Regions from separate parts of the Homo sapiens genome. Here region 2 is linked to region 1. The links come from fine-mapping of genetic effects on gene expression. A gene starts in region 1. The other region holds a variant in brackets. All regions are shown on one strand. Distances are between the middles of the regions. Region 1 holds the start of P2RY4 (pyrimidinergic receptor P2Y4). Region 2 overlaps DGAT2L6 (diacylglycerol O-acyltransferase 2 like 6).

Region 1 (8,341 bases):
TCCCTCCTTCCCTCCTTCTCTCCCTTCCTTCGTTCCTTTCCTCCTAACTCAGATAAAGAGATTAGAAATCATGCCTCTTCCCCCTTTCCTTCTTAAAGCCCCAAGGAAACAGCAAACCTTGCAAAGAAACTGTCATCAAGACAATTACGAATATTAGATGTGAAGGGCCAGGAGGGAGAGGACTGGAACAAACTGGAGGAGTAGGGCAATGGAAGGGTGTCAGCAATAATGGTATTTGTACATCTTATTTATCTCTGTCAGGGAAAAAATAGTAAACTTTTCCTGCATACTAAATTCCAGACATCAATGAGATACCCAAGTGTGTGTGTCCTATAGCAAACAACATATATAGGGCTTAGATTATAGATGTGGGAACCATTCAGTTCAACAAATTATAATTAAGTCATTCATTCACTCAACAACTATTATTGAACATGTACTATGTGGAAGGTACTTGTTTTCTTAACTCTGAATTGGAAGGCATTTTTTGGGGGACAGCAGAGAATATAATTTGAAAGGAAATATCTAGAACATATGTTATAATAACTTTACCTGGAAGGCTATGGGAAAGACAGAGGTAAAATGAGGTACATGTTCTCAAGGAGCTCTGGTTCTGGTATGGGGGTGGGAGGATCAGGAGGAGATGGCCAAAAACACAAATGAGTATAATTCTAGGCTGCCTGTGGTATGTGCCATCTCTGTAGAAATCAAATGTGATAAGAGTGTGAGAGAAGGAGAGATGCATTTTGATTAGAGAGAGATCTGTATGCTGGAGTCTCTTGGCCATTACAATTTTTGATAACCTCTGAGTCATAGTTGAAATCATGAGAGTGGATGTTCCAAGAGAGAAGGGGAAGAGAGGGTGGGGGTAGGGGGAGAGAGATGGTGGAGAGGGAGAGAGAGGAGAGGAGAGGAGAGGAGAGAGGAGAGGAGAGGATCTTTGGGGGAAGGCTCACATGTTGGGGAAGTAGGGGAAAAAAGAGCCAGGGAAGGGGCCAGAAGGAACATCCAGAGGAAGAGGAGAACCGGAGTAAAGCAAAGTCACAGGAACCAAAGTAAAGAAGAGTTTCACAGAAGAGAGTGAGGCTGATCTGCTGCATTCCGTTCCTCTTGGCCCTGGGTGAGGACAGTAAAAGCCAGGCAGGTGTGCCGGTTGGGGAGGGTTGGGAGAGGTCTTTTCCTGAAATAGCCACTGGGCGGCAGTGGTGGCAGCAGCAGCAGCTGCAGCTGTGTCGGGACATGCAGAAACGTAGCAGAGCTAAGTCAGGAGAAATGTAGCAGAGGTAAACCAGCCTGAAGCAGTAGGAGCAGGAAGCTGGCTCAGGCTGGGGCTTCTCTAGTGTAGTGCTTCTCCTTGGGTGTACACCAAACTTCAAAACACGCTTGTCCACCTCTGCAGAGGCCAGGTTCATTCCTGGGAGCAAAGCAGTAACAAAAAACACCTTCTAAACTTGCAGCATTTTATGGTTCACAAAGTGCTCCACACCTGTTAACCAATTCAATATTCAGGAAACCCTAAAAGATTGGTATTATTATTATTCCCATTTCACTGGTGAAGAATGGAAGTTACAAAGAGGCGCCCAGGCTCACATAACTAATAAGTGGAAGAGCAAGGATTTAAACACCAGCCCGTCTGGCTTCAAAAACTTGGGCCTCTTATGTAATGTCACAGTAGTCAGCTGTCCAGGACTCAGGTTATGACTGTGTCCTCCACTGCTACCTTTTATTCCACCCTTTACTCTGCCACAGGGCAAGGATCTTCAGTTTCCCCATCCAGGTTTCTGGGCTTTCCGAGAGATCTAGATTCTAGATTCTAGAAGTCCGCCTCCTCCTCTCACTCCCAGGATCCAGCTGGGTGACATTCTCAGGACCTGAGGATCAAGTAAGTTCAGAGTCCCCATTGCTTCTCAGCTCCATGCAGAGTGGATTCTGCTCCAGCCTGCTCACCCCTCCCCAAAGGCACTGCTTACCTCATCCTCAGAGTCCTCCAGACCGGGTTTGCCTCTAGTGCCTAAGATATACTTACGGAGGCTTAGTTGGCTTCAGGAGCCCCAGATCCTGAGCTGCTGGCAATTCCCTACACCAGGCTCTCAAACATCTAGGCTTGCTCTCTGCACCTTCTCCACTATATTCAGACCAAGTCTCTGGGAGTGATCAAGAGAGACGAGGGGTACTGTATAGAAAGGGGTAGAGTCTGTATGGGAAATGTATTGGCTGGTATCCTTAAGGAGGCATGAACTGTCTCCTGGCCATCCCCTCTTACATGTATAATAGGCATCTCAAAATTTACAGGCTGAAAAGTGAACTCCCAATCTTTCCCCTAAACCCACTCCTGTCTCTGTCAACAGTAACTCTATTCTTCCAGTTGCTCAGGCCGGACATTTTGGAGTAATTTTTGACTCTTCTTTCTCTTATACCCCACATCAGTAAATCTTGCTGTCCCTACTTAAAAAAGTCTATCCAGAATTTGACCACTTCTCATCATCTCCACCACTGTGATCCAAGCTACCATCATCTCTATCAGCAATAGCCTCTTGACTGGTCTTCCCCCTGTACCTCCAGCCCTGCAGTCTATTCTCAATATAGAGCTGGCCAGTGAGCCTTCTAAAATGTAAGTCAGATGACACCTCTCTTCTCTAAACCCTAAGTGCCTTCCCGTTCACCAAAGAGTCCTTTACAATGGCCTCCAAGGACCTTCATGATCTGGTCCCTGCCAAACTCTCTGACCTCATTTTTTACTTTTCCCCTTCTCACAACACCTGGCCTTTATTCAAAAGTCACCCTTAATATTTATTTATTTACTTATAGACAGGGTCTTGCTTTGTCATTCAGGCTGGAGTGCAGAGGTCTGACCATAGTTCACTGCAACCTCAAACTGCTGGGCTCAAGTGATCCTCCTATCTCCGACTCCCAAAGCACTGGGATTACAGGTGTGAGCCACTGTGCCTGGTTTCATTCCTAATATTTAAAACAACAACCCTCTCTATTACCCTTTTCCTTCCCTCTTTATTACCCTTTTCCTTCCCTCTTTAATTTTTCTCCATAATGATGATCACAATCTACATATTTTACTTATTAATTTTATTATCCCCCAGTAGTATGTAAGCACCATTAGGGTGGGAGTTTTTATCTATTTTGTCCACTCCTAAGGAACTACCAGTAACTAGAACTGGACCAGGCAAAAGTAGGCTCTCAGTAAATATTCGTGGTTTTAAAAAAATTATTTATATTTGAGACAGGGTCTCACTTTGTCACCCAGATTGGAGTGCAGTGGCGCGATCACAGCTCACTGCAGCCTCAACATCCCAGGTTCAAGCACTCCTCCTGCCTCAGCCCCCCATGTAGCTGGGACATCAGGTGCATGCCACCACGCCCGACTAATTTTTTGTAGAGACAGGGTTTTGCCACGTTGTCCAGGCTTGTCTTGAACTCCTGAGCTCCAGCGATCTGCCTGCCTCTGTCTGCCATAAATATTTGTTGATTCTTTCCTGGATCATAGCCAGTGGCTTAGAGAGGCAACTTAAGCATAGCAATTAAGTTATGGATGCTAGAGCCTGATCCAAAGGCAGGCCTGTCTTGGTTCAAATCTTGACTCTACCACTAACTAGCAAGACACCTAAACTTTCTGTGCCTTCATTTTTTCATCAGCAAAGCAGAGACAATAATAGTATCTAGCTCATAGAGAGCCTATGGGGTCATTAATAAGTATAAAGCACTTAGAAAAATGCCTGTCACATAGTAAGTGCTATATAAGCATTCTTTGTAATTATATGCATATGAGATTTATATTAAATATCAGTAGTTTAGATTTTCTAAAATCTTTCAATGTGTTGTCTTGCACTTGCCCATGTGAAAATTCGTTTCCCATGTTTCTGCTCACTTACACAGGCTTGTATGATCCCCCTGTAATCTATCTCCAGGGACCTGGCTCTTCATCAGTAAACTTGGATGTTTCCTCGTGTTCTCCCTCCTGCAGTCATTTCAAAGCTGTTAAATAGTAATCTCGCTGGGCCCCAGTTTCCCAATCTGTACAATGAGTGGGTTGGACTAGGTCATCGTAAAGGGCCTTTCTAACTCTTTTAATCTCCCAGGTGGGAGGAGGGACAGGCCCCACCTCCAACTCCACCTCCTTGGATATGCCCTCTGGCTGCCAAGGGGAAGGGTGACAGAGTCAGCTGAGCTCAGCTTCAAGGGGACCAGGTAGGAGATGTGCCAACGTTCTTGGGCAAGGGTGGCAATGGGGCTCCTGGGCTGTAGGCAGGCAGTGGGGAAGGTGTCATAGGTAAATGTCATCTGGAGACACTGTGACCAGGGCACTAGGAGAGGCGAAGGCACTGTGGGGAGAGACACTCCTCTTCCAGGGATATAGCTGTGATGACGAGTCAGAAGACACTTTGGGTCTGGGTATCTTCCCACTTTGGATAGTGCTGGGAGGCCTCCACCCTCTTCAGCCAGCCAGGCTCTTAGGGACAGAGTGAGCTGCAGAGTGAGTACAACCCAAATACACGGGCTGCCTGCCTGAGCCCCAGCACTGCCTGCTGCCCACCACTTCCCAAGCTGGACCAAGGGAGCTTGGGTAGGGGCCAGGCTAGCCTGAGTGCACCCAGATGCGCTTCTGTCAGCTCTCCCTAGTGCTTCAACCACTGCTCTCCCTGCTCTACTTTTTTTGCTCCAGCTCAGGGATGGGGGTGGGCAGGGAAATCCTGCCACCCTCACTTCTCCCCTTCCCATCTCCAGGGGGGCCATGGCCAGTACAGAGTCCTCCCTGTTGAGATCCCTAGGCCTCAGCCCAGGTCCTGGCAGCAGTGAGGTGGAGCTGGACTGTTGGTTTGATGAGGATTTCAAGTTCATCCTGCTGCCTGTGAGCTATGCAGTTGTCTTTGTGCTGGGCTTGGGCCTTAACGCCCCAACCCTATGGCTCTTCATCTTCCGCCTCCGACCCTGGGATGCAACGGCCACCTACATGTTCCACCTGGCATTGTCAGACACCTTGTATGTGCTGTCGCTGCCCACCCTCATCTACTATTATGCAGCCCACAACCACTGGCCCTTTGGCACTGAGATCTGCAAGTTCGTCCGCTTTCTTTTCTATTGGAACCTCTACTGCAGTGTCCTTTTCCTCACCTGCATCAGCGTGCACCGCTACCTGGGCATCTGCCACCCACTTCGGGCACTACGCTGGGGCCGCCCTCGCCTCGCAGGCCTTCTCTGCCTGGCAGTTTGGTTGGTCGTAGCCGGCTGCCTCGTGCCCAACCTGTTCTTTGTCACAACCAGCAACAAAGGGACCACCGTCCTGTGCCATGACACCACTCGGCCTGAAGAGTTTGACCACTATGTGCACTTCAGCTCGGCGGTCATGGGGCTGCTCTTTGGCGTGCCCTGCCTGGTCACTCTTGTTTGCTATGGACTCATGGCTCGTCGCCTGTATCAGCCCTTGCCAGGCTCTGCACAGTCGTCTTCTCGCCTCCGCTCTCTCCGCACCATAGCTGTGGTGCTGACTGTCTTTGCTGTCTGCTTCGTGCCTTTCCACATCACCCGCACCATTTACTACCTGGCCAGGCTGTTGGAAGCTGACTGCCGAGTACTGAACATTGTCAACGTGGTCTATAAAGTGACTCGGCCCCTGGCCAGTGCCAACAGCTGCCTGGATCCTGTGCTCTACTTGCTCACTGGGGACAAATATCGACGTCAGCTCCGTCAGCTCTGTGGTGGTGGCAAGCCCCAGCCCCGCACGGCTGCCTCTTCCCTGGCACTAGTGTCCCTGCCTGAGGATAGCAGCTGCAGGTGGGCGGCCACCCCCCAGGACAGTAGCTGCTCTACTCCTAGGGCAGATAGATTGTAACACGGGAAGCCGGGAAGTGAGAGAAAAGGGGATGAGTGCAGGGCAGAGGTGAGGGAACCCAATAGTGATACCTGGTAAGGTGCTTCTTCCTCTTTTCCAGGCTCTGGAGAGAAGCCCTCACCCTGAGGGTTGCAGGGAGGCAGGGATATCATGGGTGACCTCATCTCTCATAACCCCTTCAGTTGCCGACTCTTTTTAGCCAATGCCAATCTTCTACTCCTTTCTCGTTGTTTCTGTTCCTTCCTGGGGCCATTGGTCCTACAATCTTCCTGAAAATCTTCCCCAGTCCTCTTTCCCTGTCCCATTTCCCCCACAGCCTCCTATAGCATGTGTTTCTCTACCCAGACCAGAGCATTCAGCTGAAGGGGTGGATCAGGCAGAGTCATCTCAGGATTGGCCTGACGTATCTGATGGTGATAACCAGAATCAGGAAGTGGAGGCAACTTCCATATCACAGATGCCGAGGATGTGCCATATGTAGCACCCACACTGACTTCCTGGTTCTCTCTCAAAGACAGCATAGTCTTGCTTACCAAGATGCTGGAATAGGGTGTGATCCCAGGGAGCCTGCATGCCAGGGTCCCCGCATGTAGCTGGGGGCCTGACACTGTTGAACTGGTGTGCAGCATGAATTAAAGTCCTGTGATAGGGTGGGGACCTTAGCTGATAACAGCCTTTGGGACAGGAATGGGACTGGACCTTCTTTATGATGTTTGCTGAGAACATGTATATGACAGCTCTCCTGTACTTAACAAAAGGACAAGTGGATGGCTCAGACTGAGGGGGTGGAGCTCTCACGTCTATGGCTGTAAGTTCTAGCATTGAGGAGTAGAGCAGATTTGTGCAGAGGAAGGTGGTGACAAGAATTGACGCCCAGAGCTAGTGTTTCACTGATCTCTCCACTTTCTCTAGGTCCTGCCCCAAATAAATGATAAATCTGTCACCAGCTCTTTCAGATCAGGCTTCAGGACTTTGAGGCCAGGGTGGAGCACTAGGACTGGGAAGGTTCTTTTTAAAGTTTCCCACCCATTCATTGCTTCTCTCTTCCAGTGCCATCTTAGCACTTACAGGCTTATTGGATCAAGTTGCAGAGGGGAGGGGGGTGCATTGGAAATTGAGAAGCTAACCCCTAAGCCTTGGGAAGTAAGAATTTCTTGGCAGGCATTCTTGAGAAGGGTGGGCTCACACTTACAGGCCTTCTCCCTCTGAAATCACCTTCCAGCCTGTTGGTCTCCTGAGTCAGACCCCAGCCTTGCCTTTCTTTTTTTCCCACCCTTGCTAACCTGTCTCTGATCTCTTACTTATCTAATGATACTAACTCTTATTGGCTTCTAAGCGTCTCTCTCTGTAGAGTAGGGCTGGGGCTGGACTGAAGGAAAAAAAAATGACTTCAGTTCCCCTGAATTTCCCTTTTTGTTTTTTGAAAGGCTCCCACTTTCTCCCTAGATATCCAGGACCTTCTTGCTATGCAGGACTCCTGCCATTAGGAGTAAATGAACCGGCTTTTTTCTCCTCTTCTTACTAGTTCTCCCAGTCTCACAGCCACTGTTGCGTACACTGTTCCTCATCTGCACTCTCTTCCTTTTATTCCTATGACCATGGCCTCTTTGCCCATCACCTCCCCTAACCTGCTGTCCCCACCCAGTAAAGCTGCTCTTTCCATCCCAACTGACTCAGCCTCCTCCATTTCCTCAGTCTATTTAACTCCCATATGCTTAATCGAGATGAACTTTCTGGTCTGTTACTTTAGGGCTGTCTTCCCTTGCACTTTAGCTTTAAACACCTTGACTTTCACCTTAGGCCAATCTCCTTTCTTCTAGGACTGGAGGAAATTGCAGATGAAGCCAGAGAACAAGGCTGGCTTGACCCACTAAGACTTCACATCCTGGAACTTTGCCTAAGCTCTCATTCCTCTTAGCCTGGTGTGTTCCTAGTGAACATTCCACAGCAGCTGTTTCCTGTCTTTTTCACCTCCACAAGTCCCCAAATTCATCTCCTTCTTGTGATCTCTTAAGAGAGTTACCTTGCCTCCTGCGAAACTGAGAAGCTCTAACGCTTCAACTTCCAGTTATCATTCACGATAACTACTCTATATTTGCCCTGTCTTTCTCCCTTTCTTCCCTGAAGTTCCAGAATAAGAGGTGGTCCCCTTTCTTATTCCTTTGTTTACCTCTCTTCATTATTTCAAGTCTCTTCCATCACCCATTTTATCCCATCTTAAAAACAAACAACAACAACAAAAAAACCAAAGCATTATCACTGACACCTTAACCCTGCTGCCGTTTGTCTTTTCTTTTTTCTTTTTTTTTGAGACGGAGTTGCTCTGTCGCCCAGGCTGTAGTGCAGTGGCACAATTCTCGGCTCACTGCAACCTTCACTTCCCAGGTTCAAGTGATTCTCCTGCCTCAGCCTCCCAAGTAGCTGGGATTATAGGCACACATCACCACGCCTGGCTAATTTTTGTATGTTTAGTAGAGACAGGGTTGCATCATGTTGGCC
Region 2 (8,341 bases), 71 kb after region 1:
TTTTTTTTTTTTTCTTTTGACACACACTTTCACTCTGTTGCCCAGGCTGGAGTGCAATGGCGCGATCTCGGCTCACTGCTCCCTGGTTCAAGCAATTCTCGTGCCTCAGCCTCCCGAGTAGCTGGGACTACAGGAGCACGCCACCATGCCTGGCTAATTTTTGTATTTTCAGCATGTTGGCCAGGCTGGTCTCAAACTCACCATGTTGGCCGAGCTGGTCTTGAACTACTGACCACCTAGGAAGCTGTCTGGTCCTGGGCTTTTCTTTGTTAGGAGGTTTTTGATTATCGATTAAATTTCATTTGTCATTGATCTGTTTAGATTTTCTTCCTTCATAATTTATTCTTGGTAGGTTGTATGTGTCTAGAAACATATGCATTTCTTCTAGGTTATCCAATTTGTTGGCATATGATTGTTCATGGTAGTCTTTTATGACCTTTATATTTCTGTGTCATCAGGTGTAATGTCTTCTCTTTTATTTCTGATTTTATTTATTTGATATTGTGTCTCTTTTTTCCTTGGTTAGTTTAGCTAAGGGTTTGTTACTTTTGTTTATCTTAGGGTTATTTTATTCTTTTTTTTCTAGTTTCATGGGATGTAAAGTTAGGTTATTGATTTGTGACATTCCTTTTTTCTTTATGTAGGTATTTATCATGATAAACTTTCCCCTTAGAACTGTTTTTGCTGCATTCTATAAGTTTTGGTATGATGTGTTTCCATTTTCATTTGCCTCAAGATACTTTTTGATTTCCACTTTTAACTCTAACATAAGTGACGAAAGTACTAAAAATAACTACAGCTACAATAATTTGTTAATGGATACATGATATAAAAAGATATAAAGTTAAAAGTGATTTACACACTACCATTGCAGTATTCTGAGTATTTTGGATTTGATGATATATTTACCTTTACCAGTGAGTTTCATATTTTTATATGTTTTAATGTTGTTATTTAGTATCCTTTCATTTCAACTTAAACACCTTTCTTTAGCATTTCTTGTAAGGTAGGTCTAGTCGTGATGAAATCCTTTATCTTTTATTTGTCTGGAAATGTCTTTTTTTCTTGTTGTTAGAGATGGGGTCTCATTTTGTCACCTATGCTGAAGTGCAGTGGCATGCTCATAGCTCACTGAAGTTTGAACTCCTGGGCTCAAGCGATCTTCTTGCCTTAGCTTCCCAAGTAGCTGGAAGTCCAAGTAGCTGGACATCACCATGCCTGGGTAATTTTATTATTTTTATTTTTGTAGAGACAGAGTCTCACTATGTTGCCCCAGCTGGTCTCAAACTGGCCTCAAGCAATCCTCCCACCTCAGCCTCCCAACATGCTGGGATTACAGACATGAGCCACCATGCCTGGCTTTGAGAATGTCTTTATTGTTCCTTCATTTATGAATGACCACTTTGCTGGTTATAGTATTCTTCATTGGCAGTTTTTTCATCTTTTAGCACTTTGAATGTATCATCCCACTCCCTCCTGGCCTGCAAGATTTCTGCTGAGAAGTTTGCTGATGAGGTTCCCTTGTATGTGGTGAGACTCTTTTCTCTTAATGCTTTCAATATTCTCTGTTGTCTTTGACTTTTGACAATTTGATTATAATGTGCTTCAGGATATTCTTCTTTGAGTTGATCTTGCTTGGGATCCTCTGAGCTTCATGAATCTTGATGTCCATTTCTTTCCTAGGATTTGTGAAGTTTCCAACCATTATTTCTTGAAATAATCTTTCTGTTTCTTTCTCTCTCTTTTTCTTCTCCTAAATTATGGGACACCCATAATTAGTAGATTCATTTGCTTATTGTGTCCCATAGGTTCCTTATGCTTTCTTCACTCATTTTCATTTTTTTTCTTTTTTTGTTTCTCTAATTGGCTAATTTCAAATTACCTATCTTTGTGTTACCCATTTCTTTCTTCTGCATGATCAAGTCTGCTATTGAAACTCTTTCTTTTAGTTTTCAGTTCTGTCATTGTATACATCAGCTCCAGGATTTCTGTTTGGGTCCTTTTTGTGGTTTTTATTTCTTTATTAAACTTCTCATCTCATTTATGTGTTGTTTTTCTGATTTTGTTCAGTTGTCTGTGTTCTCTTACAACTCACTGCACTTCAGGATGATTATCTTGAATTCTTCTTCAAGCCTTTAATAGATCTCCATTTATTTGGGCTGTTACTGGAATTATACTAGTTTTCTTCCATGATGTCATGTTTGCTGGATTATTTGTTATTTGTATAGCCTTTCACTGGTTTCTGTGCATTTGAAGGAGCAAATCAGTCTTTATAGAGTGATTTCAGCAGGTTTATGGGGGGGCTTCTGCTAGGTCACTGGGTGGGTCCCTGGGCAGGCAGGACAGGCCCGGGACTGTGGCTGAGAAGGGCTAGAACCAAGTCATAGAACTGCCTCAAGGTCTATAGCCAAGACTGAGGCCTGCGGGCCTGCCTCCATGGGCATGGACAGGTGTGCCTCCTGCCAGGTTCCTGGGTGGACAGGACTGCCCTGTACAGTTGAATGGAGCTGGACCCAAGTTACAGGGCTGTTTCAGGATCTGCTGTGATACCAAGGTTAGCAAGCTTGCTTCCTATGGCACAGACAGGCATGACTCCCAGCAAGCCCCTGGGAAGGCATAATTGCTCCCATACCACAGCAGAGTGTGACCAGAGCTGAGTTATAAGGCTGCTTCAGGGTATACTGCTGGGACCAAGATTGGCAGTCCTGTAACTTGAGGCACAGATGGTTGTGACTCCTCCTGGATGCCTTGGAAGATGATTTTGGTGGCAGAATCATGACCAAATGGCATTGTAGCTGAGTTTACAGGGGGATGAGGCTATTTCCAGGTCTGTAACCTTCACCACAGTCAACAAGCCTGGGTGTGGGCCTGCCCTCTCAAAACAGCCTTCCTTGGTGTTGGACTCTACTAGAGTTTTGCAACATCCTACCTGGGTCCAAAATTCCCACAAAGGTACTTTGGTCCATGGATGGCTGCCAGATTCTTGTTGCTCTGGAGAGATGTGATGGACTTCCCATTCACCATCTTGTTGATGTCATACTTGAGTTAATTTTTATAGAGCCTGAAGTTTGGGTCAAGATTCATTTTGCCACATATGGACATCAAATTTTCCTACACCGTTCCTTGAAAAGACTTATTCATCCTCCATGGAATTGCTTTTTCATCTTTGTCAAAAATCAATTGACCATATTCATGTGTTTATTTCTTGACTCTTTTCTGTTCTGTGGATCAATATATCTATTCCTTCACAAATACATCACTGTCTTGATTGCTCTAGTCTTAT[A/G]CTAAGTCTCAAAATCAGATGGTATAATTCCTTTAACTTTATTCGTTCTCAAAATTGTTTTAATTATTTGTAGTTTCTTTGTTTTTCTATATAAATTTTTGAATCAGCTTGTTTATTGCTACAAAAACTCTTGATGGAGGTTTTTTAATTAAACTTTTTATTTTGAAAAAACAAGATTATTTTAATAAAGTCTTGTTTAATCTTCATCTACATCTACCCATTGTCAACATTTTACGTTTGATTTATCTTTAAATGTAAAAATGTAAGTATATACATATATGTTTGTATTTGAGAATACATCACAGAGATTACAACCTTTTGCTTCTAAATAGTTTTTAGCGTGTATTTTGCAAGAAAAACGATATTCTCTTCCCTTATAGCACCCACAATGCTATTACCAAATTTGGGAAATTTAATATTTATGCGAAACTATTACCTAATATAGCCTGACTGTGATTTTTACTTGAATTGCATTATACTTATAGATCAATCTGGGGAGAATTGGCATCTTTACTGTGTTGAATCTTCCAATCTGTGAACATGGTATGTCTCTAATTATTTAGATCTTTTATTTTATTCATCAGCATTTTACAGTTTTTAGCCTATGAATCCTGTATGGTTTACTAGATTTATTCCCAAACATTTTATTTTTGAAGGTATTTAAATGGTATTTTTTTTAAAATTTCTATTTTCAATTCTTCTCTGCTAGTATATAGAAATGTGATTAATTTTTATGCATGATCTTGTATCCTGTGACTGGCTAATCTCATTTGTTAGTGCTTGGAGGTTTTTGTTTTATTTAAAGTAGAGTCCTTGGGATTTTCCATACATACTATCATGTCATCTACAAGTAAGGACAGTTTTATTTCTCTTTTTTTCCGATCTGTATGCATTTATTTCTTTTTTTCTTTTTGCCATATTGCATTTGCTAGGGCTTTTAGCATACCGTTGAATACAAGTGGTGAGAGTGGACATCCTTGCTTTGTTTCTAATCTTAGGGAGAAAGCATTTCATCTTTCATGATCAAGTGTGATGTTAACTGTAGGGTTTTTTTTTTTTTTTTTTTGTAGATGCCCTTTATCAGGTTGAGGAAGTTCCCTTCTATTCCTAGTTTGCTGAGAGATTTTATCATGATTACATGTTGAAGTTTGTCAATTGATATGATTACATGGGGTTTTTTCATGCTTAGATGGTTAGTATGGTAGTTTACATTGATTTATTTTCAAATATTTACACTTGCCTTCCTGGATAAAGGCCACTTGGTCATGGTGCATTACTCTTTGTAATGTATTGCTGGATTCAATTTGTTAATATTTTGTTGCTTTTTTCATTTATATATATGAGGGATCTTAGTCTGTAGTTTTCTTTTCCTTTTTTGTACTATCTTTGTCTGATTTTGGTATCAGGATGTGGCCTCGTAAATGAGTTGGGAAATGTTCCTTTCTCTTAAGCTTTCTTGCAGAGATTGCATAGAATTCGTGATATTTTTTCTGTAAAATGTTTGTAGAATTTGCTGTTGAAACCATCTGGGTCTGAAAATCTCTTTTTGGAAGGTTTCTAACCTTCTAAAATTAAGATTATAGTGATGGGTTATTTATTTCATGTTAGGTGAGTTTTGATTGATTGTAGTTGTCAAGGAGGTCTCCAAATATAATTGCTAATTTGTCTATTTTTCTTTTCAGCACCATCAGTTTTTGCATCATATATTTTGCAGTTCTATCATTTGATGCATGCACATTTAGGATAGTTGTTTTCTTGGTGAATCAGCCCATTTATCATTACATAATGTCACTCTTTATCCCTGATCCTGACTTTAAAAAAAGTTAAACCTGTACAGCCTCAAATTGCTAATGATTACTAGCTTAAGTTAAAAATGGTACCAATATGACCTAAGTGGGTCCTTTCTTCAAATCATCTCTGATTCCTCTCACTTGCTCACTTAGCCCATAGATTAATAGCCAATATCTATTGTACACTTATCATGTAAAACTGTTTCACATGGCATAGTTTATTTAATCTTCATAAAGACCCCATGAGAACAGTAATCATTATCATTTTGTGGATGAGGACCTGAGGTTCAGAGTGATTACATTGTTCCAAGATTAGACAGCTAGCAGGTGAGTGGCCAGGGCTGAAAACCAAGATTGTCTTACCCCAGAGACTGTACCCTTAACCACTAAGCTCTAGCTGTTACTTCCCTTTAGTCATTTACCAATTCTTGCCAGTTCTGCCTTCCAGATATCTTTCAAATTATTCTATTTCCCACCTCCATGCTACCACTTGGTCAAAGCCACCATTATCTCTCACCTGGATGACTACCAGTGTCTTCTAAATAGGCTGCCTGCTTCCATTTGAGCCATGATGCAGCCAGTGCATTAAATGCAAGTCTGTCTCTATCAATCTATAGCATGTAGCCAAGGACATGGCTGGTTTATCAAAGAGGCATATCTGTGGCTTTATGATTACTTACTGTATCTAAGTTAACTATAAATATAAGAACCTGTGGGAGTATATGGTAATTTAACAATTCAACAATAAATATGGTTTCCTGTGGCCCTTAGGATCAAGTCCAGTCTCCTAACCCTGGCTTAGAAGGGTTAGGAGATCTTGGTGATCTAGTCTCTGGCCACCACCTTGTTCTTTGCATTCCACCATGCTATTTTTTTCAGCTCCTTCAAGTGCTCTCTAGCTTCAGGGCTTCTCTGCCTGCGGTCCCCTTTGCCTGGAAAACTCTCTCTTCAGCTCTGTGTCTGGCTAGTTCCTATTCATCTTTCAGGCCTCAAGATAAATGTCATAGGTTCAATATTTTTAGGCCATCTTTGACTTCTTTCCCTTTCCAAACAAACAAACAAACAAACAAACAAACAAACAAAAAACTTCTCCTATCCGTCTTCCTGCCTCTGTCCCCATTGCTACTGCTATGGTCCAGGACTTGATTTTTTTCTAGTCTGGACTGCAGCCTTTTGTCTGCCCTTCAGCTATGGGTTTCTTCCCCTCCAATCCATTTCCCACACCTCTGCCAGAAATTTTTAAAAAGCACAATCACATAATGTTGTTTGCTTCCTCCAAAACCATCAATATTTTCCAACTGCTGACAGAATAAAGTCTGAACACATTGGCTTGGTATTCAAGGCCCTCACTGGCCTAGCCCCACGTGTCTTCCTAGCCTCATCTCTCAGTAGCCGTACTCACATTCCTTATGCTGCAGCCTAGTATTTCTCAAAGTGTTTCGTAGCCTAGTGTTCCCATGCCCTGTAGGGACATTAGATGATCCAAGGTGGTGTATGGATAAAAAGTTATTTTAATGCATAGAGAATAAAAGCAAATTCATGGTAGCGATATAAAATTTCCTGTTAAAATACATTAATTTAGGCTACAGAGATGACTTAATTTGAAGGAAAAGTATGTTAAGTAATAATAGCATAGGTGGTACACAGCTGTGGAAAGAGCCAGAAGATGGGACACAAATGGCTAAAGTATGGGAAACGGGCCCGACCACCTTTGTCTACTTCCCATTCCCTCAACTCACCATGTAATTCACATTTCTGTGCCTTTGATGATACTGTTCCCTTATTTTTATTACTCTCTTTCCAACTTTCTGCTTATCAAAATTCTCTCAGGCTTTATGGTTTAGCTCAAATGACACTTCCTTGTGATATCTTTGCTCATCTCCCGGTCAGAATTGAGGACTCCCTCTTCTGCACACTCCCAAGACATTACTCGTGCTTCTTTCTGGTTCTGGTTCATTTTGTTTGATGGTGTAATTAGTACCTCATATGTCTGTCTCTCTCCCTATCAGACAGTAAGTTTGGCCTTTAGCACAGTGCCAAACACAGAGAGATAGCTTATGATAAATGTTCATTACATTGAATTATAGTAAAGGAAGAAGTTCAATTTCACAATTCTCCAAGTTGCAGGTGAAAGTTAATAGGAAGAGAAACCGTATTCCAAACAAGGAAAGGCTATCTGAAGTTATAAGGTGTGCATGTGTGTGTAAGGATATAGGCAACGAGTTATTTCCAGTGTAAGGTGAAAACCTATAATTCTTATGGGTGAAAACATTATGTTTCATGTTTCGGGGCAATGACCTAAATCTGAATGTTGGCAATGCTTGCCTAATCTAGTCAGTTGGCTCAATGCCTTCAGAAATTTAAAAAAAAAAAACAAAAAAACAAAACAAAAAAAAAACAAAAGTAGTTTGTCAAAGAGGAATTTCTGTGGCTTTGTGATTACTTGTTGGATCCAAATAAACTATAAATATAAGAACTTGTAGGAGTGACAGGTAATTTAATAATTCAGTAAACATTGATGAGCCTACCTCATATGAAATCTCTATGTTAAAAGCCATGGGGACAGGGTTGGGAACTGGAAAGGGGAGGGTGAAAGGAGTAAATATGGAAATGATGAAAATAATGCAAGCATGGTCCTTGATACCATGTATTGACCATTTGTTGTGAAACAGCACTCTGTTCAGCACTTAATGTATATTATCTCATTTAATGTTCTTGCAGTCCTCATAGGTGGATAATTTTATTATCTCGTTTTACAGATGAAGAAACTAAGAATCAGAGAGATCATGTATCTTTACTCCAAGCTGTAGGAAAAAAAGTAGATAGCATTCATTATGTGCCAATAACTATTTTAAGTACCTCATGTGTATTAACTCACATTAATACGTGTGGAAAACAAAATTCCTGTCTTGGAGAAGCTCTGGGTTTCTTGTGAAAGATAAGGTTCAAAGTTGAATTTTGGAGGAAAGGTAGGATTTTTGTCAGATGGATTGGTAGAGGAAGGGTCCTCCATGCACAAAGAAGAGCCTGAACAAAGTCCAGGAGATGGGAGAGTCCAAGGCCTGGGAGTAACATCATTACCTGCAAAAACACAGGCAGCCTAAGGAAGCCGTGGTACAGGAGATGAAGCTGGGAAGGAAACTGGAGAGATTAGGCCTGATGCTGAAGGAAATGAATAGCCAGTAAAGGTTAGTAAGCAGAGAGCAGAAGAGTAGCATGATCGTGTCTGTTTCAGGAAGATAATCTGGAATAACTGTGAGAGCAAGAG

The links. PIP is the estimated chance that this variant, and not a neighbour inherited with it, causes the effect.
Region 2: its variant is fine-mapped to the expression of P2RY4 in sun-exposed skin (GTEx, PIP 0.95).

Annotation. Positions count from the first base shown.
Region 1 is chrX:70,256,028-70,264,368 of GRCh38, reverse strand. It overlaps P2RY4 (pyrimidinergic receptor P2Y4), which reads left to right and starts at 4,165. Exons shown (of 1, transcript NM_002565.4): 1 at 4,165-6,203. The coding sequence starts at 4,745. The coding sequence ends at 5,842. RefSeq lists an enhancer at 1,076-1,370.
Region 2 is chrX:70,184,985-70,193,325 of GRCh38, reverse strand. The region is part of intron 1 of DGAT2L6 (diacylglycerol O-acyltransferase 2 like 6); the gene reads right to left. Among named protein-coding and RNA genes, the nearest start is that of DGAT2L6, 12 kb to the right of the region's middle. The variant A/G (reference allele first, on the strand shown) is at 3,284.